Linked DNA regions of Homo sapiens. The protein of the gene in region 1 interacts with the protein of each later gene in a pairwise test. Each region holds a gene or a part of one and is shown in the gene's direction. Other genes may lie near its edges.

What was found.
Region 2: the proteins of NDEL1 (region 1) and MTUS2 interact in binary tests that used the Homo sapiens proteins (3 or more experiments, as listed by UniProt).
Region 3: the proteins of NDEL1 (region 1) and ZNF707 interact in binary tests that used the Homo sapiens proteins (3 or more experiments, as listed by UniProt).
Region 4: the proteins of NDEL1 (region 1) and ZNF599 interact in binary tests that used the Homo sapiens proteins (3 or more experiments, as listed by UniProt).

Annotation. Positions count from the first base shown.
Region 1 is NC_000017.11:8,431,955-8,438,889, forward strand, and holds the start of NDEL1 (nuclear distribution protein nudE-like 1), read left to right. Parts: upstream 1-3,929; 5' UTR 3,930-4,091; intron 4,092-6,935. UniProt on the Homo sapiens protein: Required for organization of the cellular microtubule array and microtubule anchoring at the centrosome. May regulate microtubule organization at least in part by targeting the microtubule severing protein KATNA1 to the centrosome.
Region 2 is NC_000013.11:28,823,339-28,830,363, forward strand, and holds part of MTUS2 (microtubule-associated tumor suppressor candidate 2), read left to right. Parts: intron 1-7,025. UniProt on the Homo sapiens protein: Binds microtubules. Together with MAPRE1 may target the microtubule depolymerase KIF2C to the plus-end of microtubules. May regulate the dynamics of microtubules at their growing distal tip.
Region 3 is NC_000008.11:143,679,715-143,687,497, forward strand, and holds the start of ZNF707 (zinc finger protein 707), read left to right. Parts: upstream 1-4,764; 5' UTR 4,765-4,828; intron 4,829-7,202; exon of another isoform or gene 7,203-7,300; intron 7,301-7,666; exon of another isoform or gene 7,667-7,764; intron 7,765-7,783. UniProt on the Homo sapiens protein: May be involved in transcriptional regulation.
Region 4 is NC_000019.10:34,763,212-34,770,236, reverse strand, and holds part of ZNF599 (zinc finger protein 599), read left to right. Parts: intron 1-681; coding exon 682-808; intron 809-2,825; coding exon 2,826-2,921; intron 2,922-7,025. UniProt on the Homo sapiens protein: May be involved in transcriptional regulation.

The DNA of each region.
Region 1 (6,935 bases):
GTTCAAGCGGTTCTCAAGCTTCACCCACCTGAGTAGCTGGGATTACAGGCACATGCCATCACATTCAGCTAATTTTTCTATATTTTTAGTAGAGACGGGGTTTCACCATGTTGGCCAGGCTAGTCTTGGACTCCTGGCCTCAAGTGATCTACCCGCCCCAGGTCTCCCAAAGTGCTGAGATTACAGGTGTGAGCCACTGTGCCCAGCCAAGGTCAGGATACTTTCGTAACCATGATATCAGCCATTTATTTAGTACATCCCTAAAGAATTGAGGATCTGGGGATTTTAAGCATGTTAATGCAGTCTTTTTTACATTATTAACTGAAGAAAAATGGCTACCCTTTAAAGAGATATATATATATATTTATATATAAATATATATATTATATATAAATATAAATATAAATATATATATATTTAATGGCAGGCCAATATATATATATTTTTTGAGACAGAGTCTCGCTCTGTTGCCCAGGCTGGAGTGTAGTGGCGCGATCTCGGCTCACTGCAAGCTCCGCCTCCCGGGTTCATGCCATTCTCCTGCCTCAGCCTCCCAAGTAGCTGGGACTACAGGCGTCCACCACTACACCCAGCTAATTTTTTGGATTTTTAGTAGAGACGGGTTTTCACCGTGTTAGCCAGGATGGTCTCGATCTCCTGACCTCGTGATCCGCCTGCCTCGGCTTCCCAAAGTGCTGGGATTACAGGCATGAGCCACTGCGCCTGGCCTAAAGATTTTTTAAGATTAGGAAACAAAAAGTCTTCAGAGGGAGCCAAATTGGGACTGTAAGGTGATGTCTACTGATTTTCCACTGAAACTCTTGCAAAATTGCCCTTGTTTGATGAGAGAAATGAGCAGGAACTTTATCATGGTGGAAAGGTCTCTCTGATGAAGGTTTCCTGGGCATTTTTCCACTAAAGCTTTGGCTAATCTTCTCAAAACACTCTCGTAATAAGTACGTTATTATTCTTTAGCCCTCCAGAAAGCAAAATGCCTAGAACAACCCACAAAATGGTTGCCATGATTTTTGCTCTTGACTGGTTCACTTTGCTTTGACTGGACTACTTCCATCTCTTGGTAGCCACCGCTTTGTCTTCAGGATTGTACTGGTAAAGCGAAGTTTCATTCTTGGTTACAATTCTTCAAAAAAAAAAAAAGCTTCAGGATCTTGATCCCACTTGTTTAAAATGTGTGAAATTTTGAAAGCTCTGTTCTTGTCAGCAGCTGACCTGGGCACAATGGTTTTGCCACCCATTGGGTGGAAAGTTAGCTCAACTTTAATTTTTCAGTAAGGATTGTGTAGGCCAAATCTGTTGAGATATCTGTGGTGCTGGCTATTGTTTCTGCTGTTAATCATTGATCCTTTTCAATTAGCACATGAACAAGATTACTTTTTTTCCTCACAAATTGATGTGGAGGGTCTGCTGCTGTGGGCTTCATCTTCAACATCATCATGTTTCTTCTTAAAATGAATTATCCATTTGTAAACTGCTGACTTCTTTTGGGGCTTTGTCCTTTTACACTTTTATAAAGCGTCAATGATTCCACCATTTTTCCACCCAGGCTTCACCATAAATTTAGTATTTTGTATTGCTTCAATTTTGTAGAATATGTGTTCTGATAGGGACTCTCTTCAAACTGATTTCTTATCTTTCTTGGTGCTTCAAGCTAGATCCTGTTCAGACATGTTATAGCAAGTTAGAACAAATTTATTTTGGTGCAAACATTTATTTTATTTTTTTAGAGACAGGTGTCTCACTGTGCTGCCCAGGCTGGTCTCGAACTTCTGGGCTCAAGTGATCTGTCTACCTCAGCTTCCCAGAGTGCTGGGATTACAGGTATGGGCCACCATGCTTGGCCCTGTGCAAAAAAAAAATTGGAAATCCATGCATAGTTTTTTCATAATATGCATATTATTCATAATATTATTCATAATAGGCATATGTAATATGTTACCTTTCCCACAAACCCCATTAATCCCTTCTCTGATCTTTATTGATTTGGGTACCTCTTACAATCCATCTTGCATTGTTCCTGTTTATGTCCATCGCCCTCAAAAATATAAACTGGGCCTCCTAGGCTCACTTTGTTTTCACCTTGAGGCATGTCTTACACATTATTTTTGTGTTCACACCCACAAATCCAATCCTAAAAGCACTGAAATTGGAAAGGATTACATTGCGTGCCGCATGGAGGCTGGTGCCTGTAATCCCAGGACTTTGTGGGGGGCTGAGGTGGGAAGATTGCCTGAAGTCAGGAGTTCTTTTTTGTTTTGTTTTGTTTGTTTTTAGACGGAGTCTCACTCTGTCGCCCAGGTTAGAGTGCAGTGGTGCTCACTGCAACCTCCGCCTCCCGGGTTCGAGCGATTCTCCTGCCTCAGCCTCCGGAGTAGCTAGGATTACAGGTGCCCACCATCATGCCTGGCTAATTTTTGTACTTTTAGTAGAGACAGGGTTTCACCATGTTGGCCAGGCTGGTCTCGAAGTCCTGGCCTCAGGTGATTTGCCCGCCTCGGCTTCCCAAAGTGCTGCAGCGCCTGGCCGAAGTCAGGAGTTCTTGACCAGCCTGGGCAACACAGTAGACCCCATCTCCTAAAGGAAAGGATTACCTTGTACATTATACAGCAAAAGTTCTTAAAATTGTTTTTAAAATGTATCTCTTCCTTTAAGTTTCCACTCCCTATGTAAGTTGCCTATCCCTCTTTCCCTCCTTTTTGGGCTAGTATCGTCTCCAGCTTGCTTCCAAGTCCGCTAGGGAATACACACGCGCGCACACACACATACACGTGTGTGTTTACGTACTAAAAATATATAAACATTAATAATGCAAGATGGGGCCGGGCGCTGTGTCTCACGCCTGTAATCCCAGCACTTTGGGAGGCCGAGGCGGGCGGATCACGAGGTCAGGAGTTCGAGACCAGCCTGGCCAACATGGTGAAACCCCGTCTCTACTAAAAATACAAAAATTAGTCGGGCGTGGTGGCAGGCGCCTGTAATCCCAGCTACTAGGGAGGCTGAGGCAGGAGAATTGCTTAAACCTGGGAGGCGGAGGTTGCAGTGAGCCGAGATCGCGCCACTGCACTCCAGCCTGGGCAACAAGAGCGAAACTCCGTCTCAAAAACAAACAAACAAACAAACAAACAAAAACCAAGATGGATTGTAAGAGGTATATATATACACATAGGACTCCATTTCTTGGGGGACCTGGAGGGGAGAAAGTCACACCCATACACACACGTACACGCATGTATACAAAAATGAATATATGCTCAGATATATACAATATATAAATGGGCAAATATAAAATCCCCTTTGTGCCAACGAATCCATTCATTCATTCATCAAATATTTGAGCGTCCACTTTGCCTAGAACCAAGTTATCTGTTGGGATGAGCAAGGCATAAGAGGTTCTAGCTCTCATAGAACTTAGAATTCTACTGGAGGAAGATGAGAACAAATACAAAATGTAAACAGTGGAAGTTCTGTAAAAACAACACAGAGCTTTGTGAGAGTGATGCTTAGAATGCTCCTGATGTTCCATTGGGTGTTCGAGCAGGGGGAATGGACTCGGAGGTGAACTATGAGCCGAGATTCATTTTATAAACGGGAACACAGACACATGGACACTTGAAGGGCCTTGGTGGCCAGAAAACTGAAGGCAGGTTCCCATCCGTCTTGGCACCACTCTCCCGAATAGCAGTTTCAGGGAACTGCACAAGCCAAAACCAGCCGGTCGCAGAGTCCAGGAGCGCCTGCGCAAGAGGACGCCTGCGCAAGAGGACGCCGTCAGCTTGGCGTCAGCGCGCCGGGCTCTGGCCCGCCCCCTGTGACACCAGCCCCGCCCCACCCCGCCCCGCATACCCGTGCGCTGCCGCGCATGCTCCGAGCCCCGCCCCCGTGCGTCACAGAATGGCCTCGGACACCCAGGCAGTCCCTGACGTGTCGGGGAGGAGCCGGGCGCGGAGGTACGCTGAGTGGAGCTCGGGGCTGCGTAGGGGAGCTGAGCCGAGCGGCTGGGCGGGCCTGGCCGGGCCGGCGGAGGGGAGACGTCGGTTGAGCGGCGGCGAACATGCGCTTTTGACACATTGGAGGTGAGCCTGCAGCGCGGGGCCGCTCCCTAAGGGGCTGCGCTGGGCCGGCGGCGCCGAGGCCTGCCCTTGGGGAGCCTTCCCGGCCCGGGGCCGTGTCTGAGGCTCCGCCGGGGCGGGCCGGGCCGGGTTCCGGGGCGGCCAGCCTGGGGGCAACTGTTCCAACCGCTCTAACTGTCCCCTCCCTTCCCTGGTCCGATGTGTGGCCCCCCAGGGGCGCCTGCAAGGGAACGATTCCGGTGGCCTCCGGAAGATGTGCCCCGTTCCGGGTAGGGTGAGGGCTGGCGGTGACGGAGGCCGGGACGTGGCACCGTGGGCTGGGGCGCTGGCGGCGCAAGGAGTGGCCCAGTCGGAGGTGGCAGCGGCGCGCCCAGCCCGCCTCCTCCTACCCCCTCTTCGAAATTCCTTCATTTGCGAGGGTGGCTTGGAGCGGGGTTGCATTTTGATCTCTCAGTGCCTCTCTCCCATGGGGGGCGAGAGCGCGAGCAGCCCACGTTGGGCTCGGATTGGCATTCTCCTGACTCCCGCCCGGAACTGCTAATCATCCTCCCCCTGGAGTTCGGCAAAGTGTCACCAACGGGCTCGGGTTACTTGTGCTCGACTCTTTTCTTGCTGTAAGCCATGAGATGACCCTTTAAGTTTTGCAAAGGAGGTGAGAGTTCTGTCACCACTGATTATTACCTTCTATTTACGTAGCACCTTTACACGTTTCAGAGCACTCTTCTTCCTATCTTTTTCTAACCGCATCACCTTGTGGTTGCAACTGATTATGTTATCGCCATTTCGATGGGTAAATGGAGCTGGGATGGGGGTAATTATTTATACTTAGGTTCAACCAACTGGTGAGTGGTTTAGCTTGGATCATAATTTACATTTCTAGGCTCGGAGTTCTGGTTTCTTTTCGTGGGATTTTTATACCCTTCTCAGCTACAAAACAAGGCAGAAAATGTGACTTGCCAAAGATATGCCAGAAGCTGGTAGATTACTTACTCAATTATTTTTGAGAAAACTCACCTAGGATAAAAACGGCTGCTCAGTCATGAGAAAAATCTTCCTGTGAAGCTTGTTCAGGAGTTGCTGGTTAATTGCTTTGCTAAATCGTGAAGTTGATGGGCACAGTGCAGCGTTAAGTCATGGGCTGAAGAGAAGTAAAGGGAAACCAAGTGAAGTATTTCTTCTGAATTATTATTAAAATTATTGTTATTTAAAATTAGAGTGCGTGAGAAACAAAACCTTTGGCCAGCCCTGGTTAGAGGTTGACTTGATCCAGATAGAAGTTGCTAAATCTTCTGAAGCTGTAGTTCTTTTGATTTTTTTAAATTAAATAAATTGAAGTTGGATAAAGAGCTTAAAATAAGTAGGAACCTTAGTAAAACTTAGATCTTGCTTTCATGACATCTGCAAAACAACTTATTTTTGTTTTCATTTTAAACCATGCTGGGATAAATTTGGTTACTAAAGCTTAAAATTACTTCTGACGTAAGTTTCTGAGCACTCCATAAAGTAAAAAAGAAGTCTGATAGAATCAAAGAGAGACCGTGTTTATGATCAACTTTGAAGAGTTAAAAATTCTGTAAATGTCACCTTTGAGAGTAGTAGAATTTCAGTAAAAAGGCATATATTGCCAACAGTGAGTTCTGAAAGAACTCTTCTAACGTCAGTCCATTTTAGAACTGTTAACCAGAAACAATATCATTGAAAATAGATTTTCTTACCATTGTACAAAGAATAATTTCCTTGTAAATAAAAGGCATTTTGGACAGGCTGTTTTAAACTCAAATGAGTTGATTGTTGCTAGATTTCTGAAGGTCATACACAGTATGATAATGCTTTACGTAAAAATTGTCATGCTTTTGAGACTGTGTCCGTATTGAGATCTGGTATTAAAGAAAGATGGGGTGGGGGCGGGCAGAGAATAATAATTTTTTTTTTCTTTGATGGAGTCTCCCTCTGTTGCCCAGGCTGGAGTGCAGTGGCACAATCTCGGCTCACTGCAACCTCCACCTCCTGGATTCAAGCGATTCTCCTGCCTCAGCCTCCTGAGTAGCTGGGATTACAGGTGCGCACCACGATGCCCTGCTAATTTTTGTATATTTAGTAGAGACAGGGTTTCACCATGTTGGTCAGGCTGGTCTCGAACTCCTCACCTCGTGATCCGCCTGCCTCAGCCTCACAAAGTGCTGGGATTACAGGCGTGAGCCACCGTGCCCTGCCAATAATACATAATTATCTATCTTCATTCTAGCTTCAGAAAATTGTGGATGTACCATTAGAGCATTGTTTTAGCAGTATGTTTTCTATATTAGCTAACTTTCTATAGCCTGAATATCTCCAGTTACATAGTTTGAAATAAGTGAACACATCCTCCCAGTGTAACTTGAAGCAAACTGAACAGACTGTATAACAGCCCCTGAAACTGTCGTTTGAGTATCTGCAGTGGTAGCAAATTTTATTATTTGTAAATAATCTGATTTTTATTTTTATTTTTTTGGAGGCAGGGTCTCATTTTGTCACCCAGGCTGGAGTGCAGTGGAGTGATTACAGCTTACTGCAGCCTCAACTTCCTGGACTCAAGCGATCCTCCCACCACAGTCTCACGAGTAGCTGGGACCACAGGTGCATGCCACCACACCCAGCTCATTTTTGTATTTTTGTTAGAGATGGGGTTTCAGCATGTTGTCCAGGCTGGCCTTGAAGTTCCAGGCTCAACTGACATTCCCACCTCAGCCTTCCAAGTGCTGGGATTAATATGCGCGAGCCACTGTGCCTGGCCAGAATCTGATTTTTAAAAAGAGTAAATCTGATGGGTAAAAGTAGGGCAATAGAGCTGGATAATACCAGTTAGGA
Region 2 (7,025 bases), on another chromosome or scaffold:
GGGAGGCTTATAATATCTACCACACACATGTTTGAAACGAGTTGTTGAAAAGAGTCAAGGAGTTTCCCCTTTTCTCTGAAATGATTTCTACTTCCTATGTGAATTTGGATGCCTTTAGATCTTATCATCTTGACCCTTCCCACCAACGGGTATACCTTGTCTATCAATTACCCATCCATCAGTCATCTATCTACCATCCACCCACCCATCCACAGAGACTCTCTTTTTGACCAAACTTTAGTCAGGCTCCCCTGAGCCCTCTTCTCAACTGGGCCTCAACCTTGGCCCGTAAGAACTGCAGCTTTCAACACAAACAATTTTGTCTGTGCTCCCACCCTCCAACGGATTTGAAAACACTGTAGCATGGTGTATTAGCCTGTTCTCACCTTGCTGATAAAGACATACCCAAGACTGGGTAATATATAAAGGAAAGAGGTTTAATTGACTCATATAGTTCAGCATGGCTGGGGAGGCCTCAGGAAACATAGAATCACGGTGGAAGGGGAAGCAAACACGTCCTTCTTCACATGGCAGCAGGAGAGAAAAATGAGCAAAAGGGGGAAAAACACCGTATAAAACCAGCAGATTTCATGAGAACTTACTGTCGCGAGAACAACATGAGGGTAGTTCCCCCATGATTAAATTACCTCCCACCTAGTCCCTCTCATGACACATGGGGATTATGGGAATTATAATTCATGATGACATTTGGGTGGGGACACAGCCAAACCATATAACATGGCATCTAGCAGCCTAAGGCCATGTGTCTGGGATCACCCAGCCTCACTTGCATTCCTACCTAGAAAAGCTCAAGGCTGCCCCAAAGAATTTATCTTTTGTTCTAGCCCACACAAATGATAATAGGCCCCTGACTTTCATTTTGTTAGATCGTTTATTAAAAACTTACAATTGTAATTCTTTCTCTGTGCCTTTGAGATATATGTGTATCTCCTACCACCTGGAGTGTCTTCCTCAGTGTCTGTGAGCCATTCCTTTGAAGTGTAATCATCAGGGAGGATAGGGCTCTGTCCTCTAGTCTCTGTAGATGGGTAGGAGCCTAACTTTGACAAGTGCCATTTAGCAGTCACAGATGGCCTAGTCTCATTGGCAAGCCCCCTTGCCTGATTGCTGTAATGTTCTGTGTCCTTGACCCTGCTTGAGCCCCCACACATTCTCATTTCTCCTCCCTACTTCCTTATTCTCCCTTTAAAACACCCAGTCACCTCTACCTGAATTGGAGTTGAGCTCAGTTCTATACTGAAGTCTCTTTCTCTCACTGCAGTTGTACTGGGTAAAATCTGTCTTTACTGCCTTTAACCAGTGTCTAGCTTTTTTTTTTTTTTTTAAACACCATCCAACAAAAAAGTTTGAGTGTCTCCATAGGCCAGGCACTTTTACATATTAGGTATAGAGCAGCAAATAAAACAGACAAAAACTGCATCCTTGAGGAACTTACAGTGTAATGGAATGAATCAGATGAGGTTAAGTACTTAATATATCAGGTATGGATACTGCTATGGAGAAAATAAATCAGAGATGGGGGAGCAGGAGTGGGTTATGGGGAATTGCTATTTCAAGTAGTGTGGTCAGGGAATGCCTCACTGAAAGGAGATGTTGAGCAGAGCCCTAAAGGAGATGGAAGAGTGAGCCACCTGACCAGAGTGCAGCTGGCATTTGTGGGGAGCACAGGGAGGCAGCTGCAGGCCGCAGTGGGGGAATCTCATGCTCATGGCCAGCTTTTCCTCATGACAGCAGCCCCATCCCCCACTCCAGCCACCTGAGGCTGCCCACGAACACTGGTGTTGTTCTTGGGGCCTTAGTGGTATGGTGGCTTGGAACTGAGGACCTCTCAGGGCATCGGAATCCAGCCTAGACCATACCTGAATAGGAGTAAGGAATGAGAGTGTATGTTTTCAATGATGGCTCCCACTGGTTTGTCATAGGAAAGAGGCTGGGGGCAAGCTCACTCCAGCCTGGATTCCCTGCAGTCACCCTGGGAACAAATGGAACTATGATGTATAAAAGATGTGGACAGTGGAAACCACACGGCTCTTTCTCGAGGAATGTCTTAATATCAGGAACCTAGAACAACTTTCTGATTTGAACTGAGCCTAGAGAGAATCCCCAGCTTAAAGGGAACTGGGGTTGGTTAGGGTTTGAGGAGGGGAAATTACTCAGTCATTGACCGAGGCTCCTGCATGCCCAGATGGCTGCTCAACATCTGCTAACCAGAACAACACACACACACACACCCCTGGCAACAGGCTGTCATGAATTTCTCCATGGAGAAGGTGAAGAAACCATTGGGGAGCAGCAGCCAGGGCCTGTCTGCTGGTTTTTAGTTACAGCCTTTCTATACTCATGGGGACAGGGGTATGGAACCAGGATGGGATAGCTGTTTCATTTTTTAAGCTGTTAGCTTGTAACCATTTTAAACTCTCAACAACCAAAACACAAATCTCTCATATAGAGGTTCCTTGGATTGTTTGCTGGTGGGTAGGGAGCATCACAGCAGCTTGAGTGAGCATATGCAGCTGGCATTGGGGAGGTGGCATTTATAGGAGTCTGGTGTTCCTGACTCTTCTCTGTGCCTGTCATGACTTCATGTGGTCTCTTACTTTGCAAGCTTCTCTCACGTGCCCTATTGTATTTGGAAAATGGGGAACTTAAGGTCATTCCTGGGTATTTGATACTCCTCTTTAGCTTTTGTAAGTGGGCCTTCTTCTAATTGGTTGTATATATTCTATATGTTGGTTGTATTACATATAACCAATAATTGATATATAGAAAGCTATTCTAAAATGTAATGTAACCAAGCACTTTTCAAGCTCTTATTAATTATAACCTTGTTTTGTGGTTATTTTCCTTGGATTTTCCAGATAGATGGTCATATCATCTGCTAAATAAGTAAATAAATCAATAAATTTAAAATACATGGTTAGATGAATGAATAGATAAAAAATGATTACTTTGGTCTCTTTATTTCTATTTTTTATTATCAGACTAGATAGAAGACGAGACTGTTTATCTGTTGAGAGATTTTAAAAACAAGATTATTGTATTTCAGCCAAATGTACTTCCCTTGTCCCAGAGAGGATAGGCTATATGATCTCTGAGGTCCTCTCCTTATTAGTCTTTTTACTCTGTTTACTGTAGACCCATTGTACCAGTATGTTCAGTTCCCATAGAAAAACAAAAGAGTGTTTACACACAGTCATTATAGATAAGCCAGCAGTGTGTGTGATTAGGGCCAAACCAGTATTGATGATGGCCTGATACTGACTTTAGAAAGTTTGACTCACCTTGCAGAAATGAAAAGCCAACATAATGCATTAGCGTCTATGAAGACTGTAATAAGGCAAATACATTTGTCCAGAAACAGGCTGATATTGATACACTGATTTTAAGTGCTTTTCCCCAAAAGTACAATAGAGAAAGCCAGGAATATATAGCCTTGGATTACAATAAATGATAATAAAACAGCAGAAGCAAATAACACTTAATAGGGAAGTTTATTTTCCACACTTCATCAGATTGCTACTGCAGAGTACTAGTCTAAAAATTTAATATGAACACTAGCTCTGTAAATACGGGAGAAGTAATCTCAAATCATCCTGAATTAATTATCTTTGTGCTAAGCTGTTTGACATTACTCATTGAAAATAGCTTCTCAAGACAGGCAGTATTTTTCTACACACAAATAATTGTGTTCTCAGGTTGGAAATGTTGCCACATATTAAGCCAAACACATTTTTTTGCTTCTAATTCTTATATTACTATCAGTTTATTTCAGGGAAAGTTAATTTGAGAATTGAAATCATGTAGCAGAATAATTTTGGTTGAAATTGATGTTTCTAAGCCTGATGCATTTTCCATTAGTGTTACATGGTATCATTGGAAGTTTGTACAGTGAACATGCCAAACATTAGGTTTAGTTTTCTGAAGACTCTAGCAAGTATTCTTTTTTTTTAAATCCACATTGTATTAGTTTAACTGGCAGGTAGTAATTAGTTTTATATTGAGTGAGCTAATTTGCCACTACTAGCAGATTTTGAAGTTATTTTAATATAAATACATTGTCCTCTACCCCCAAACTTTATACTGAAATTTTTCTGCTAAATTTTAGGATTATAATTTTGATAATGGCCCAGGATATTGGAATAAAATATAAATGTGAGTTAGCATTAATATCTCAGTTTAGAGAATAACAATAAAAGCAGGAATGTGACCTGCAGCCACATTTCTTCAGTATCGGGGGAAATTCAGCCCCCAATATTTGACGTGGGTCCTTTTCTATTTTCCCTAAGTATTGGCCGGTCTGAGAAATAAAGGGAAATAGTACAAAAGAGAGAAATTTTAGAGCTGGGTGTCTGGGGGAGACATCACATGTTGGCAGGTTCCGTGATGCCCCTCAAGCCGCAAAACCAGCAAGTTTTTATTAGTGATTTTCAAAAGGGGAGGGAGTGTACGAATAGTGTGTGGGTCACAGAGATCACATGCTTCACAAGGTAATAAAATATCACATGGCAAATGGAGGCAGGGTGAGATCACAGGACCGGGGTGAAATTAAAATCGCTAATGAAGTTTTGGGCATGCATTGTCATTGATAACATCTTATCAGGAGACAGGGTTTGAGAGCAGACAACTAGTCTGACCAAAATTTATTAGGCGGGAATTTCCTCGTCTTAATAAGCCTGGGAGCGCTACGGGAGACTGGGGCTTATTTCACCGCTTATCCACAACCGTAAAAGACAGACGTTCCCAAAGTGGCCATTTCAGAGACCTCCCCTTGGGAATGCATTCTCTTTCTCAGGGGTGTTCCTTGCTGAGAAAAAGAATTCAGCGATATTTCTCCTATTTGCTCTTGAAAGAAGAGAAATATGGCTCTGTTCTGCCAAGCCCACAGGCAGCCAGACTTTAAGGTTATCTCCCTTGTTCCCTCAACATTGCTGTTATCCTGTTCTTTTTTCAAGGTACCCAGATTTCATATTGTTTAAACAATTTGTGCAGTTAACACAATCATCACAGGGTCCTGAGGTGACATTCATCCTCAGCTTATGAAGATGACAGGATTAAGCAATTAAAGTAAAGACAGGCATAGGAAATCACAAGAGCATTGATTGGGGAAGTGATAAATGGCCATGAAATCTTCACAATTTATCTTCAGAGATTGCAGTAAAGACAGGTGTAAGAAATTATAAAATTATTAATTTGGGGAACTAATAAATGTCCATGAAATCTTTACAATTTATGTTCTTCTGCCATGGCTTCAGCCGGTCCCTCCGTTCGGGGTCCCTGACTTCCTGCAACACTCCAGGGTCAGCAGTAGAGAGAGGCTAGTTGAGCACTTGCCTCAGGTACAAAATTTAAGGGACACCAAGACACTTAGTAATACAAATAAATATTTTATGCATTTTAGAAAATCAAGATTAATGCAAAAAATCCATAATGAACAAAATATCAAAATTTTAAAGGAAGACAGGATCAGTATTACTGAGTTTTCCTTTTGTGTCAGGCTCCAGTTTGGTTTGTAATAGCACTGTTACTGATCCTATCTATAAAGTTTTAATATTTCGTTCATCATGGATTTTTTACATTAATTTTGATTTCCTAAAAATATTGCATTAATATATTATTTATCTTGGAACACATCTGAATTATTGGAGTAAAGACATTCTGAAAAGTCTCTCCTGCACAATAACAATGAAAGCACTGGCAAAAATATCAAAATAAACCATTTTAGAATGGTGGAAATTAACGAAGGGTTTATAACAATCTGAGGAATATTTATTCAAGAAAAAGGACTGAATCTCAGTAAGAACAGTGAACTTTGTCATTTTTAAACTTACCTTATTCCCATTCCTTCATCCGCAGCTCCATTGTAGCCTTCAAAACTAATAGCCTAAGTCAGGCACAGTGGCTCACACCTGTAATCCTAGCACTTAGAGAGGCTGAGACAGGTGGGTCACCTGAGGTCAGGAGTTTGAGACCAGCCTGGCCAACAAGGTGAAATGCTGTCTCTCCTAAAAGTACAAAAAAAAAAATTAGCCAGGCATGGTGGTGTGTGTATGTAATCTCAGCTACTTGGGAGGCTGAGGCAGGAGAATCGCTTGAACCCGGGAGGTGGAGGTTGCAGTGAGCTGAGATTGCGCCACTGAACTCCAGCCTGAATGACAGAGTAGGACTCCGTCTAAAAAAAAAAACAAACAATAACTAATAGCCTAGAAGCCACTGAAAGGGACAAAACAGGTTTAGAGCCCTCTAAGATCCCCAGTCTCAGAAAATTGTCACTATATGATTGCTCTAGAAGCTTCTTAAAAAACTCCATTCTCAAAGCTTGTTTTGCAGAGCCCTGTGGCATTTTTGGAAAACAATCAGCAGTAATTGTTTAACCTCTCAGCTGCCTGAGGCAGTGACACCAGTTGGGGTTAACAAGAGGTTAACCAAAAAACTTAAAAGGAAAAATTGGAAAAGGAGCTACCTATGGGGGCTTTAAAAACCTTTGATGTAGTCTTTGGAATCTAGAAGTCCCATGTCTGTATGTCCAGGAAATACTTAATAAGGCCTTAATCTGTCATCTCAGACTAACAATGAGGCTTTGCATAAGTAAAGTAGGAAGAGAAGACTAAGAGTTGTAAACTACCTGCTGGAGTGTTAAAAGCATGTACCCCACCCCCCAACACGCGTAATCCCTCAGCAAAGACAGAAATCTCTGTACCGTCATTAGCTGACCACTGAAGCTAGACTTCAGCAGCTGCACATGATAAACAAAGTAGACTTTACATAATTAGTCTGGGAAATAGCAATAGAAACAATAGTAGCAACAAATATAACAACAAACCTTTATGCAGAGTGGAATCTTATTTCTAGGTTGCCATATTTTTTTAAATCCAGTTTTCAACATAAAATTTCCACACACACAAGCAGTAGCATATGGGCCATAACAGGAAAAACAAAAGTATCCCTGAGAAAGTCCAGATACTGGACTTAGTAGACAAACATTTTAAATTAGCTATTATAAATGT
Region 3 (7,783 bases), on another chromosome or scaffold:
GAGGCGGAGCTTGCAGTGAGCCGAGATCGCGCCCCTGCACTCCAGCCTGGGCGACAGAGCAAGACTCCGTCTCAAAAAAAAAAAAAAAAAAAAAAAAAAAAAGAATGCTTCAGCACAAGTGTACTTCATGAATCACTATCGCTCTGTCATGCAGGAAGACATAGCTAGTGAGGAAGAAGGTGAGAACTCCCACTAATAAAATGAGTGAGAGTCTCAAAGAGGGGGAATAAGGGAGGAGACTGCCCCTCATATCCTCTTATGCCCAATTTCTGCCTCCAAAGAAAGAAGAAGTAAAAGCTAAAAGGCAGAAATGAAATCTACAGGTAGACAGCCCGGCGCCGCACCCTGGGCCTGGTAGTTAAAGACTGACCCCTGACCTAACCGGTTGTGTTACCTATAGATTCCAGACATTGTAAAAATCCCTGTCCCGTTCTGTTCCGTTCTGATTACCAGTGCATGCAGCCCCCAGTCACGTACCCCCTGCTTGCTCAATTGATCACGACCCTCTCACGCGGACCCCCTTAGAGTTGTGAGCTCTTAAAAGGGACAGGAATTGCTCACTCAGGGAGCTCGGCTCTTGAGACAGGAGTCTTGCCAATGCTCTCGGCCAAATAAACTCCTTCCTTCTTTGACTTGGTGTCTGAGAGTTTTGTCTGCATCTTGTCCTGCTACAAGCTCACGGCAACCTCTGCCTCCTGGGTTCAAGCAATTCTTCTGCCTCAGCCTCCTGAGTAGCTGGGACTATAGGCACGCACCACCACGCCCGGCTATTTTTTGTATTTTTAGTAGAGATGGAGTTTCACCCTGTTGGCCAGACTGGCCTCGAACTCCTGACCTATGATCTGCCCGCCTCGGCCTCCCAAAGTGCTGGGATTATAGGCATGAGCCACCGCACCTGGCCCATACAGCTTTTATAATATTATAGATTTTTTTCTTCCCAATGTTTTAAGAGATGGGGTCTTGGCCGGGCACAGTGGCTCACGTCTGTAATCCCAGCACTTTGGGAGACCAAGGCAGGCAGATCAACTGAGGTCAGGGGTTCGAGACCAGCTTAGCCAACATGGTGAAACCCTGTCTCTACAAAACATACAAAAAATTAGCTGGGCATGGTGGCGGGCCCCTGTAGTCCCAGCTACTCGGGAGGCTGAGGCTGGAGAATCACTTGAACCCAGGAGGTGGAGCTTGCAGTGAGCCGAGATTGCACCACTGCACTCCAGCCTGAGCAACAGAGTCAGACTCCATCCGAAAAAAAAAAACAGTTTTGAAAGTGTTGAGCACCCGATTCTATCGCTGATCGGGGCGCCACTTGTAACCTGCACGGACCTAAGGGGACTGAACAAAGGGGGCGAACTCGGGAATAAAGACAAGAGACAAAAGAGTATATTTGGAAGAGGGCGTCAGGGGGCACCTTGCCTCTAGTGGACAAGGGCCCTGAGCTTTACACAGCCCTCCGTATCTATTAGGCAAAAGAGATAGTGAGAAAAGGGGGGTGATTGTCGGGTAATTGTCAGTCGGCCTTGAACAGGCTGCATCCTTTGGACAATAGAGTATTTCTCAATAGATAACTTCAAGGAGCCCAGAGCCAGGGAGCGAGGCCCTCAGCAAACCTTTTGGTGGCAGGGCAGTGTGAGTTCACCCACATCCTGCATTCATGGTAAACAGTTTGCTGTTTGATCATAGAGCCTCCAGCGGAATGCTGAGTTGGTCACGTCCCACGGGCCTTCGGCTCCCTGCATGAAGCTATGACACAGGTGCCCTCCCTACAGTCTTTCCCAGGCCTGCTGGGTCTCAAGTAGCCATGTGGCACCCAGGGAGGCTGTCAAGGCTGTCTGAGGCCCGAAGTTACATCCTAGGTTAGAGCTCAGGACAGAAGACAGAGCTGTGAAGGCAATGCCTGGAGGATCCAACCTCTCCCAGAATAGCCAGGAGGCAAAACTGGCGAAAGGGGACCACATGGGGCTGGATTCTGCTTGGGAGCTGCTGGTCGAGGCACTGAGAACTTGTCCCCAGACCTCACCATGGCCACCTGTCCAGCCCCGATTCCAGAGGCTCAAAACCAAAAACATAAGTAACAGCAAATCAACAAGTATTAAATTATATGTAACTAACAATTTTGAAGACATTCCTATTGACATAGGATGTTGTTCTCAGTCATTCTGCAAGCCAGGGACCTCCGGCCAGCGACGCCCCGCCAGGGCCTCGCTTGACACACTACCTGCTGCAGGAGACAGCCCGTCAACTCCCCCGAGTTCCCGAATGCTTGTCCACGGCCAAGAAGAATGAGGAGGCTCTGACAATCGAAGAGTGAGCAAGGCGGGGAATTTCACTGGGTGACGGGGCAGCTTTCAGTGGAGAGGGGACATGGCGTGGTCCCCCTACATGAAGGCAGGAAAGTTCCCCATGTTATGGACTCAGAATGGGGAGGGCGTGCTGATTGGTTTGTGAGTAATGCAAAAAAGGTTAAAGCAAAGGCACCACTGAAAGGTGGGCATGACAGTGTAGAAAGCCAATTAGAAAAGGGTAGGTATATGTAAAATAGGTGAAGGGTGGGACCAATCAGAGGAAAGTGCGCCAGACAGGAAGACAGGCTCTCAATCCGGTCTGAGGATTCGACTTGCAGCTTGGCTTTCAGGCTTTAAGCTGTTTTCAGCGTCGAGGTGGAGGTTTCACTGGGGACCTGCCCCCATTTGGCTGGGCATTTGGCTGCCTGCCTCCTGTCGCTATCACTCCTTTACTAGTGAGGACTAAACTGATCTTTTTCTCTCTTGCTCAAGTTCTTATCTAAAGGGCCTGGGGAGTCTGCCCTACAAACCATAAAATGTCATCAGATAGGTTTTATTTAACCCTATATAATTGGCTTAGTTTCCAACCTGACTCTAGCATAACGTCACATGACAGATAAAGGAAATCAAAATATTTTACTCTTTTTTTTTTTTTTTTTTTGAGACGGAGTCTCACTCTGTCGCCCAGGCTGGAATGGAGTGGCGCGATCTCGGCTCACTGCAAGCTCCGCCTCTGGGTTTCACACCGTTCTCCTGCCTCAGCCTCCCGAGTAGCTGGGACTACAGGCGCCCGCCACCATGCCCGGCTAATTTGTTGTATTTTTAGTAGAGACGGGTTTCACCATGTTAGCCAGGATGGTCTCGATCTCCTGACCTCGTGATCCACCCGCCTCGGCCTCCCAAAGTGCTGAGATTACAGGCGGGAGCCACCGTGCCCGGCCTATTTTACTTTTAAATATATTTCTTGGCTATACTTTGGATGCTTTCAGGTCATAGGTGGATTCAAAGATTTTCTGATTGGCAATTGGTTGAATAAGTTAAGTGATTACCTAAGACCTGGAATCTATAGAAAGGCGTGTCTAGGTTTGAACAGTTGGCCACCCTTGTGTGGGTGGAGTATTACATAGGTGCCTAGGCAAGAGACTGAAGGCACAAACTGTTTCAGTATAATAAAGAAAATAGTTAGAATAAGAATAGTCATAATACAAATTAGATATAGAGATGACCATGAACAATTATCAATCATTATTATAAACATTATTAATCATTAGCTTTTACCATTACTCTTTGTTGCATTACTAATATAACCTAGGAATAACCGGCGGATATAGGGTCGGGTGCTGAAGGGACATGGTGAGAAGTGACCTAGAAGGCAAGAGGTGAGCCTTCTGTCACTCCCACATCAGGGCTGCTTGAGGGCTCCTTGGTCAAGCCCTAACGCCAGTGTCTGGGAAGTCACCCGTTGCTTAGTAGACTGCGAAAGGGAGTCTCCTTTCCTTGGAGGAGTCAGGGAACACTCTGCTCCACCAGCTTCTTGTGGGAGGTTGGATATTACCCAGGCCTGGCCGCAGTCATCCGGAGGCCTAAACCCCTCCCTGTGGTGCTTCAATGTTCACGCTCCTTGTCCACTTTCGTGTTCCTCCTGTACTCCTGGTTCCTCTTTGAAGTTCGTAGTCGATAGCGGTAGAAGAAATAGTGAAAGTCTTAAAGTCTTTGATTAATGCTAACTTATGCTGCCTTCTCTCTCTGCTTCCGCTACCTAAGAGGGAAGGGCCCCCTGTCCTGTAATCATGTGACTTGCTTCACCTTGTCAATCACTTAGAAGATTCACCCTCCTTACCCTGGCCCCTTGTCTTGTATGCAATAAATATCAGCGCGCCCAGCCGTTTGGGGCCACTACCGGTCTCTGCGTCTTGATGGTAGTGGTCGCCCGGGCCCAGCTGTTTTCTCTTTATCTCTTTGTCTTGTGTCTTTATTTATTACAATCTCTCATCTCCGCACACGGGGACAACACCCGCTTAGCCCCGCAGGGCTGGACCCTACACCCTTGATTGGCTGGAACTGGGTGACTGGCAGGAGAGCAAGTGACAGTCTGTTCACACCTCCAGTTAGGTTACAGTTCACTTTGTAGGATAAACCTTTAGGCCGACTTTAGGTTATGAGGGCCGGGATCGGTGGTTCACGCCTGTAACCCCAGCACTTTGGGAGGCCAAGTCAGGCGGATCACCTGAGGTCAGGAGTTCAAAACCAGCCTGACCAACATGATGAAACCCCCGTCTCTACTAAAATTACAAAAAAATCAGCCGGGCGTCGTGGCGCTTGGCTGTGACCGGGGCGGGGCCTGCCGGCTGCGGCGGAACCACAAGCGGTGCGGGGCGAGGCGGGCGGCCTGGACGGCCTGGAAGGCCAGCGCGCACCACCGAGACGTGGGCTCCTAGAGGGGCCGGAAGCTTTCGGATAACAACTTCCGCTCGGGAAGTTTGTAAAAGTCTGGGCTACCGGCGCGGCGTAGTGGATGCAGCATCCTAGTGGAGGACGCCCCTGTGGTGAGTGCGCCCGTGTCCCCCGCCGCCCCTCCGTCCCTGGGTCGTGGGCTGTCAAACCTTCTAATTCTGCGGCCGCCCCAGGGCTGTGAGACCCAGCGTCGCGGCTGCTGGGACAGACCGGGGAGGCTGCCCGTGCCCTCGGCTATTCGGGGGCTGTTCTTCAGCTTCTTCCGGCTCGGCCTCCTCTTCTCTCCTCGCTCCTTACACTTGCAGGTTTGTCAGGACCCGGTTGCGTATCCTCTTGAAGCTGGTTTCTTCCTGGCCGACCCCGTCCGCGATCGTGACCTTAGTTATCCCTCATAGACACTTTCCACACCTGTGTCTCCAGCCCTATCGCTCCGATGAGACCCGAGCGCTTAGACTTGATTCATAACACCCAAAGCTCCCCGGCCCCAGGCTGAGCTCCTGCAACCTCCACACCCCACCCTCTGGTCCTCCCAGGCATTCCACCGCGAAGGGGAGGAGGCAGAAACCCGAGATTCGCTTCTTCTCCTTTCCTGCCCACGCCCAGCCACACAGTCACTGGTGCGTTAGCTCCATAACTGAACCATTTGCCTCCTTGCCATTCCCACCCTGTAAGTCCCAATCCTGGCCGTCTTCCTCTCTCACCTGAACGCCTCCCTGTCTTCTCCCCACCCCCATCCTGTTTTGCTGCTTTCTCATTTGTTCATCACAGAGGATCTTTTATAAAATGTAGCTTAGCCAGGCAAGGTGGCTCCCGCCTGTAATCTCAGCTCTTGGGAGGCCGAGGCAGGTGGATCACTTGAGTCCAGGAGTTCTAGACCAGCTTGGTCAGCATGTTGAAACCTTGTCTCTACAAAAAATACAAAAATTAGCCGGGTGTGGTGGTGCACGCCTGTAATCCCAGTTACTCTGGGGAGGCTGAGGCAAGAGAATCGTTTGAACCCAAGAGGCAGAGGTTGCAGTGAGCAGAGATCGCGCCACTGCACTCCAGCCTGGGCGACAGAGCGAGACATCATCTTATTAAAAAAAAAAAAAAAAAAAAGGTAGCTTAGGCCGGATGCTGTGGCTGACGCCTGTAACCCCAGCACTTGGGGAGGCTGAGGCCAGAGGATCTCTTGAGGCCAGGAGTTTGAGATCAGTCTTGGCAACATAGTGAGACCCCGTTTCTGCAAAAAACTTAAAACAATTGCAGGGCATGTTGGCACATGCGCTTTTGGTCCCAGCTACTGGGGAGACTGAGGTGGGAGGATCACTTGAGCCCAGGAGGTCGAGGCTGCAGTGAGCTGTGATTGCACTACTGCATTCCAGCCTGGGTGACAGAGCAAGGACCTGCCTCAGAGAAAAAAAAATCCTGTGTTAATTTGCCTAGGGGAAAAAAAGTAGCTATGACAATATCCTTCTGTTCTCCCGTATTAAACTTTGTTGCATTACACATGAAACCACGGCTCAGGAGGCCTTGAGGAATCTGGCTTTAGCCCCTTTCCTGGCCTATCTCACGGTTCTCCCTGACTCTGCTTTCCAGGCTGGGAAGCCCAGTCCAGGTTGTGCAAACACAGCTGTTGAGCTGAGGGGAGAGGGTGTTTTTTTTTTGTTTTTGTTTTTGTTTTTTTTGAGATCGTCTCGCTCTGTCTCCCAGGCTGAAGTGCAGTGGCATAATCTCGGCTCACTGCAACCTCCGCCTCCCGGGTTCAAGCAGTTCTCCTGCTTCAGCCTCCCAAGTAGCCTGGCTAATTTTTTGCATTTGTAGTAGAGATGGGGTTTCACCATGTTGGCCAGGCTGGTCTCGAACTTCTGACCTCAGGTGATCCACCTGCCTCGGCCTCCCCAAGTGCTGGGATTACAGGCGTGAACCACCGCGAATGGCCGGGAGCTGTTATTTTTATCACTGTGGTCATTGCTACTTGCTAGAGGAACTCAGCAAGGTGTTCTAATTGGAAAACACCACCCATGACCCATGTGCTCAGTGTGCCTTTTCATGTTTTTATAGACCGTTGTATAACTTTGGTTGAAGTGTCTGTTCTAATATTTTGCCCAGTTTAAATTTTATTTCTCTTTTTTATTGATTTGTAGGAGTTACAATTCTTTATATAAGTCCTTTGTCAGATACATGTATTGGGAATATTTTCTCTTAGTCTGTGGCTTACCTTTGTGTCTCTTTTTAGAAAAAAAAATTTAAACAATAGAGACAGAGGTCTCCCTATGTTGCCCAGGCTGGTCTCAAACTCCTGGCCTCAAGCAATCCCCCTGCCTTAGCCTCCCAAAGTGCTGGGATTACAGGCGTGAGCCACTGCACCCCGTCTCCTTTTTTTTTTTTCTTAACTGCCTTGGTAAACAAAAATTTTTAATTCTGATAAATCCAATTTGTGATTTTTTTTTTTTTTTGAGACGGAGCTTTGCTTTTGTTGCCCAGGCTGGAGTGCAATGGCGCGATATCGGCTCGCCGCAACTTCTGCCTCCTGGGTTCAAGTGAATCTCCTGCCCCAGCCTCCTGAGCAGCTGGGATGACAGGCAAGTGCCACCACGCCTGGCTAATTTTGTATTTTTAGTAGAGATGGGGTTTCTCCATGTTGGCCAGGCTGGTCTCAAACTCCGTACCTCAGGTGATCCGCCCACCTCGGCCTCCCAAAGTGCTGGGATTACAGGCGTGAGCCACTGCATCCGGCCTGAATTTGTAATTTTTTAAAAGTGCTTTTAGGGATCCATGAAAGAAATGTTTGTCTACCCCAATGTTGTGAAGATGGTCTCTCTGTGTCACCCAGGCTGGAGTGCAGTGGCACAATCTTGGCTCACTACAACCTCTACCTCCAGTTTGTGTTTTTTGTTTGTTTGTTTTTGTTTTTGTTTTTAAGACGGAGTTTTGCTCTTGTTCCCCAGGCCGGACTGCAGGGGTGCGATCTTGGCTCACAGCAACTTCCACCTCCCGGGTTCAAGCGATTCTCCTGCCTCAGCTTCCCAAGTAGCTGGGATGACAGGTGCCTGCCACCATGCCTG
Region 4 (7,025 bases), on another chromosome or scaffold:
GCCTCAATTTGCTGATTGTGAAATGGAGATGATGACATTTACATCATGGGCTATAGGATGACTATTGAAATTTACACACATTGTAACACATGCTGGGCACTGCAGTGTTTGCTTTATGAACATTTTCTCATTAATTTTCACAACAGTTCGGTGAAGTGGGAACTATTAATGTATTGATGTGGAAATTGGAGCTCCAAGAAATTAAGAGACTTCTCCAAGGTCACACATCTGGCAGGTTGGTTCAAGAGGCTGGATTTAAACTTCAGGAGCCTGATTCCAGACCTGGAGACTTTTAGTTGCTTGAACACAGCATGTGAAGCCCTCAGGTGCAGGCAAACAGTGCAGACCAGTGAGGCTCAGCTGCTGCTGCTGTGATTATTGTTTGAATTATTATTTTTCCCCATTCTTGTAATGTCCTAGGACATTACTGTCTGCTCCTCACAGTCAGATGGGATTATCATTGTCTTGTATCATTTTCCAATGGTTTCCAACATAGGAGGCTTTTCTGTCCCACATCTTTGTATTCTGTCAGCGGCACCATCTGCCTCCACAGAGCCCAGTGGTTCTCAGGAGTTGCTCAGTGGTTCAGGGTCTCTGGACCCTTTGCCAGTAACCAAGAAGTGAGCTGTAATTTCACCTAATAGCTCCACAGCCACCTGTCACCTCTGTTTGACTTCCCAGGCATTAGTATCATTTGAAGACGTGGTTGTGACCTTCACTGGAGAGGAATGGGGGCACCTGGACCTGGCCCAGAGGACCCTGTACCAGGAGGTGATGCTGGAGACCTGCAGGCTCCTGGTCTCACTGGGTAAGACCTCATTACCCTCCCATGTAGGGGACCCACAGCCTCTTTGAATCCACCCTTTCTAGGCATGGCTGGTCCAGGAGCCTCAGAACCCAACCTTCCCTGATCCCTGCAGCCTCAGCACGTTGTGGTCTGACCTCCTCTTGCTGGGTTTCCCTGTGTCTCAATCAAAGATTGTTATGTAAGAAACACAGTCCTCCTCAACACTTTTATCCCACTGTCTAGCACAGCTGGCCTCAGTCTGACATCTTTATCCCAGACTGCCACAAGAGGTAATTGGCCCAGCTTGGTTGAGTCAAATGTCCTCACAGCCCAGTTAGCAGGACCTGTGGATAATGGGAGGTTCTACAAGCAGCGGGTGATTGACACAGACACTAAGAAGGTGTTTGTTATCAGTGCTGCTTATATCTTTTTCAGCAACACAGTCTCAGCTGAAAGGTCTCTTTGGCTCCTAGCACCTGCACAGTTAACCCTTACTTCCTAAGGCCTGTGCCTTGCTCCTCTGCTGCTACAGGAGATGATTATGATTATGGAAAGGGAGCACAGACACATTCTCAAATGGCATGGATGTATGCTATCTGAGAAAGCTGTTCTTTTTTTCTTTTCTCTTTCCTGTCTCTTGAATGTTGAGTGTTGGCTTAGGGCTGAATCTTTAACACTCCCATAGCTGTTGGTGAATTTCCTCCTCAGTAGAAAGAGTAGCCTCAAACTCCTAGCCTCAAGCAGGCAGCAGGAACTTGCTGGGACCTGTTATCATTTTGATTTTGCCATTTTTATAGTAACCTGTCACAGCAAGGTAACTAATATGTGTAAAGTGCTTAGAATAGAGCTGGAAACATAGCAAGTGTTCTGCATGTGTTTGTTACATTTAACAAATTAATAAATACCAAATGCTCTCCCACCTAAACCTTTAATGGACAGTTTGCCCAGAAGTTGGTCTGAGTAGATATGAATGGAGGCCCAAAGTCTCACTTATTCCAGTTGTTCAAATGGTTACCATCGACAGGGCTCTCCCAGTCCTGCGTCCTCACGAGGGATGAGTCATTAATGAAGTAAACGTGGTGTTATTTTATGACAACTGTGATTAGTTGTCGAAAGGAGATGTATGGGGAACAGCATTCCAGGAGGAGGGACCAACATGAGCAGCATCCCTGTGGGAGCAGGGTGCTTGATTCCTTAACAGAGATGAAGGCAGGCCTGATTCCCCTTTAATGCTGCTCATCACCCAGCTCAGTGCCAAGCATATGGCAGAACATTTGCTGAGTGTGCATGTGGCATGTAAGTGTGCGTAATCCTATGGTGAACATTTGCTAAGTGACAGCTGGATGCGTGCCAGGACAAGATTTTCCAGTTGATGCTTCTGGGTCCTGGTGCCTCAGTCATTGACTTCTCTCCAGAGTCTTCTGTCTTAGCCTTCACAGTTGGCAAAATGTGTGTGGCTGCATGTGGAAGAAGACCACCTCCTGCCAGTTTCACCCTGAAAATAATTTCTTACTTTACCTAATGAGAAGCCCTGAGGTGCTGCTGACTCCTGGCTTGGTCAGTGCCAATCCATGCTAACCCAGTTCTCTGTCTGCTTTCTCTCCTTGGTCTAGGGCCCTGGCCAGTATCCTTGTGGGGCAGTAGGCCTCCATGTTCAGCTTCAGTCACTGGCCTGCCTCACACAACTGACTATCAATAGATGCCATTCATCAGGCGATTTAGTCCTGTGTTTTTCAACCATCATGGGCACCAAAATCACCTGGGGAGCTTTAAAAACTACCAGCACTCAGTCCTTCTGCTCAGAGATTTGGTTTAATTTGTTCTGTTTTTGGAACTGGGTGTTGCTAGGTAGTTTTGATGCACAGGGTGGTTGAATCCTACTGACTTAGGTTAATTAGGGAATACTTTTGGTGAGGCAGGGGAGGGCCCTTTCTGGGGTTTCATTGCAGTATGTTAAATATATGTACTCCTTTACACCTCAGACTTTTCTTTTTGTCTTTCCCTGTACACCATACTCCATTTGTTTCTCCATGCACAGGGCATCCTGTTCCCAAACCAGAGCTGATCTATCTACTGGAACATGGACAGGAACTGTGGACAGTGAAGAGAGGCCTCTCCCAAAGCACCTGCGCAGGTTGGTGACTGAGAGTCTGGCAGCGGGTATCAGGGCAGCCTGCAGACCACCCAGGCATCACTGTGTCTGAAATGCCATGGGCAGCTATTTTGTGGTCTTGAGCAGTCATGGAGCCCTTGACCCCATGGTCCCCCGTCTTCCCACTTCTGTCACACACTCTTTGCCTTTATTCAGGTTGGAATATGTTAGGTAGGAGACAGATTCTAGGCTTTAATGATTTGCCACTCACTAGCCTCATGACTCTGGAGAGGTTGTGTGACGTCACTGTGCCTTTGGTATATAAGTTAGGCTGAGTTAATGACCTTCTCTGAAAAATAAACTCCAAAATCATGTGACTCAACAGATTAAGTTTCGTTTTGTTTTGTTTTTTTATCCATGCCATAGCCCAATGTGGGTCAGCAGGAAAGCTGTGTACCCTGTATTTATTTATGGATCACATGCATTCTGTTGTCAATATGCAGCTTTAAGGTTGCCCCGGCCAAGAGGAATGGGAGAGAAGGGCAGTAGTCACTTCCATTAACATTTCATCCACAAGAACTGGGTATTAGGCTACATGTTGTATCAGGCTGGGAAATGTGGTTTAGCTTTTTTATACCCAAGGAGAAGAGCCTATGGGTATAGTGAACATATACTTATCTGATACACTTAGCCTACATTTGAAAGATAGTGATGATAGTTTCTGCATGACTGGGTTGTTTGGGAATGTGATCACATAGCAGGAAACTGCCTAGCACACTGCCTGACCCGGAGTGGCTCAACAGAAGTTACTTGTAAGTAATATTAATGTAGTGTTAGTCATAAGGAATAGTGATAGCTCAGACATTCTTCTGCATTCAGAAGACAGTCCTTTCTTTTCCTGCAGATTACTATTTCAAACTACACTCTGCATCCCACCATTTTTCACCTTCTCCAGCCCGTCATTTATTGATCCATCCATTCATCTTTTCATTTATGTATCAGATACGCAGAAGCACTCCCTAGCCCTGTTGTTTTCTGGCCCTCCTGTCTTCTAAAAACCTCAAGGTGATGATTGCCTTTGTCAGTCCCACATCTGGGCTGCCAGAGGAAGCTGGAGCCATCAAGCAGGTGGATTTGTGACACTGTAGATTCACCATCTCACCCCTCTAGTGTCCTTCTTGCCTGCTCAGTCAGCCTTCACCCCTCTCCCCTATTCCACATCTTCACTTGAATGTCTCAGAGGCACCTCACACTCATCATGCCTAAAAGGACCTCATGATCACCCCCATTTTCAGCTAATGCCTCTTTCAATGAGTGGAGAAGGCTAAAAACAAACGTGGACAACCCCTCAACACCTCCATCTCCCTCATACCCAATATCCAGCCATCCCCGAATCTTGACCATTTCACATCACTCATGTCTCCTGAATCCTCACCTTCACTAGTTTCCATCAGCTCCAGCATTAGTACTCTAGGCCAAGTGATCATCTCTTGCCTGCATAATGCTACCAGATTCCTCGCTGTTTTCCCCCATGTGCTCTGTGCATCTGGTCAGCCCTGTGTGTTATATCTGCATCCACTCACATGTTCCATGTATCACCGCCTCCCTTGCCACTGATGTCAGAGCATCTGACCTACTTTATGAATAAAGCCTACACACTTGATTTTCTTGCTTTTTGACACTTACTGATTCATGTTCATCTGACTTATCCTGCAGCTTCCTTCTCACTTCTGTGGAAGAGTTATCATCCTGGCCATGGCTAATTTCTCCAGCAGAATCTAGATTACACTTTCTGCCTTCTCAGGTGTATTAGCCATCTACTATTAATATGTAACAATATTACCACAAACCCTGCAGCTGAAAACATCACTTATTTATTATCTCCCACCTATGGATTGGGAGTCCAGGCACAGCTTAGCTGGGTCCTCTCAGGCGTGTCATAGGCAGCTCATAGCTCATCATCACCATCAGCTCACTTCTTCAAATCAAGCCACTGTGTGAGACTCCAGCAAGACGGATGTTCCAGTCTTATAAAATTACATATATTTTATCATGTACATTCCATCATCTTTGCCATATTCTATACTTTAGAAGCAAATCGAGGTCCTGCCAACATTTTAACAGGGGAACTACAAAAGGGTGTGAACACTATGACTTGGGGATCATGAGAAGCCATACGTGAATCTCTCAGCTGCATCAGGGAACATGCTTCTTCACTTACTTCCTACCTCTTCTATATTTTCATCCCCTCTCTACTCAACATTAAAAAAAAATGATGATGTTTCTGATACCTGGGGGAGACTTTTTTTTTTTTAGTGCTCTTACGTCTCCAGCAGCATCTACATATTGTTGACTCTATTTCACCTGAACAGCCAAGCTTGTTGGAGAAGTCTTCTCATTCTTTGAAGAGACATCTACACAAGACTTTCCTTTATTTATTTTTTCCCTTATTTTTGTACTGAGGTGCAATTTATACATAATAAGTGTACAAATCATAAAGTTTCATTTCTATAAAGTTTTATATATGTACAAGTCAGAGAAACCATCTCACAGTTCAAGAAATACAGTGTTTTCAGCACTTAACAGGCTCCTTGTGCTCATTCTTTGTCAGTATCCCCTTCTATAAAAGTAGTCAGTGTTTATACTCTATATCACCATACATTAGTTTTGAAGGCATATAAATAGAACCCCCTAGTACATACTCTGTCCTGACTTCTTTTGATAATCTTTATGACTCAGATTCATTCATGTGGTTGCATATAGTTGGAGTTAGTTCATTACCATCATTGAATGAATAGACTACATATACCCATTTTCCTATTGATGGACATTTGACTTGGTCTCCATTTTTGGAATATTATGAAGACTACTCTTATGAATATTCTTGATTGTATTTTTTGTTGGATATAAACCCATATTTCTGTTGGGAATATACATACAAGTGGACTGGCCAGATCAAGTGTGGGCATATGATTAGCTTTAATCGAAACCACCAGTTTCAGAGTAACTACACCATTTCACATTTCCACTAGCCACGTATGAGAGTCTTCATTGTTCCATGTACGCCTGAGCAGTTGGTGTCTTTCCCTTTACTCTTTGATGCCTGGTAGTGGTGTTTCTCAGCACCACAGCACTTAAAGTGTTCTTGCCCAGGTCACTGTTGCCATCCTGATTGCTAAATTCAACTATAATGATAATAGACAGTGGTCTACAGTTTACCAAACATTTATTCTTTGTCACACGAATGAACTTTTGTTTGGTTTTTGGGTTTTTTTTGAGACAGGATCTCACTCTGTCGCCTAGGCTAGTGTGCAGTGGCACAATCTCGGCTCACTGCAGCCTCTGCCTCCTGGGTTCAAGTGATTCTCGTGCCTCAGCCTCCTGAGTAACTGGAATTACAGGCATGCACCACCACACCTGGCTGAATTTTTTGTATTTTTAGTAGAGATAGGGTTTTGCTGTGTTGGCCAGGCTGGTAACTCCTGGCCTCAAGTGATCTTCCTGCCTCAGCCTCCCAAAGTGCTGGGATTACAGGTGTGAGCCCCCACACCCAGCCACAAATCAATATTTTGTATGCTTTTTCTCCTAACAACTTGTAGGCAGGAACTGAGAGTATCCCAGTTTTTCAGATGAGGAAAGTGAATCTTAGAAAAGTGTGTTAGTCTGCTCTGGCTGCTGTAATAAAATACTATAGACTGCGTGGCTTATATAGCAGAAATGTGTTTTCTCTCAGGTCTAGAGGCCGCAAGTCTAAGGTCAGGGTACCAGCATTGTTGGGTTCTGATAAGGGCTGTCTTCTCAGCTTGCAGATGGCCGCCTTCTCACTTTGTGCTCACATGGCCTTCCCTCAGTGCCTTCACTTCTTACAAGAAGTTTACCATGTTGGCCAGGCTGGTCTTGAACTCCCGACCTTCAGTGATCCGCCTGTCTTGGCCTTCCAAAGTGCTGGGATTACAGGCATGAGCCACCATGCCTGGCCCCCCTCTGACTTTCATAATTGTCCCTAGGTGTGCAGAATTAGAAAAATTATAAATAATGATTTATGACACATTGTCATCATTAGTCAATGCGTGTCCTGGTTTTTTGTTTTATTTTCTTTCATTGCATTTTATTAATATATTTATTCATCCTCCTTTAAAAAGATTG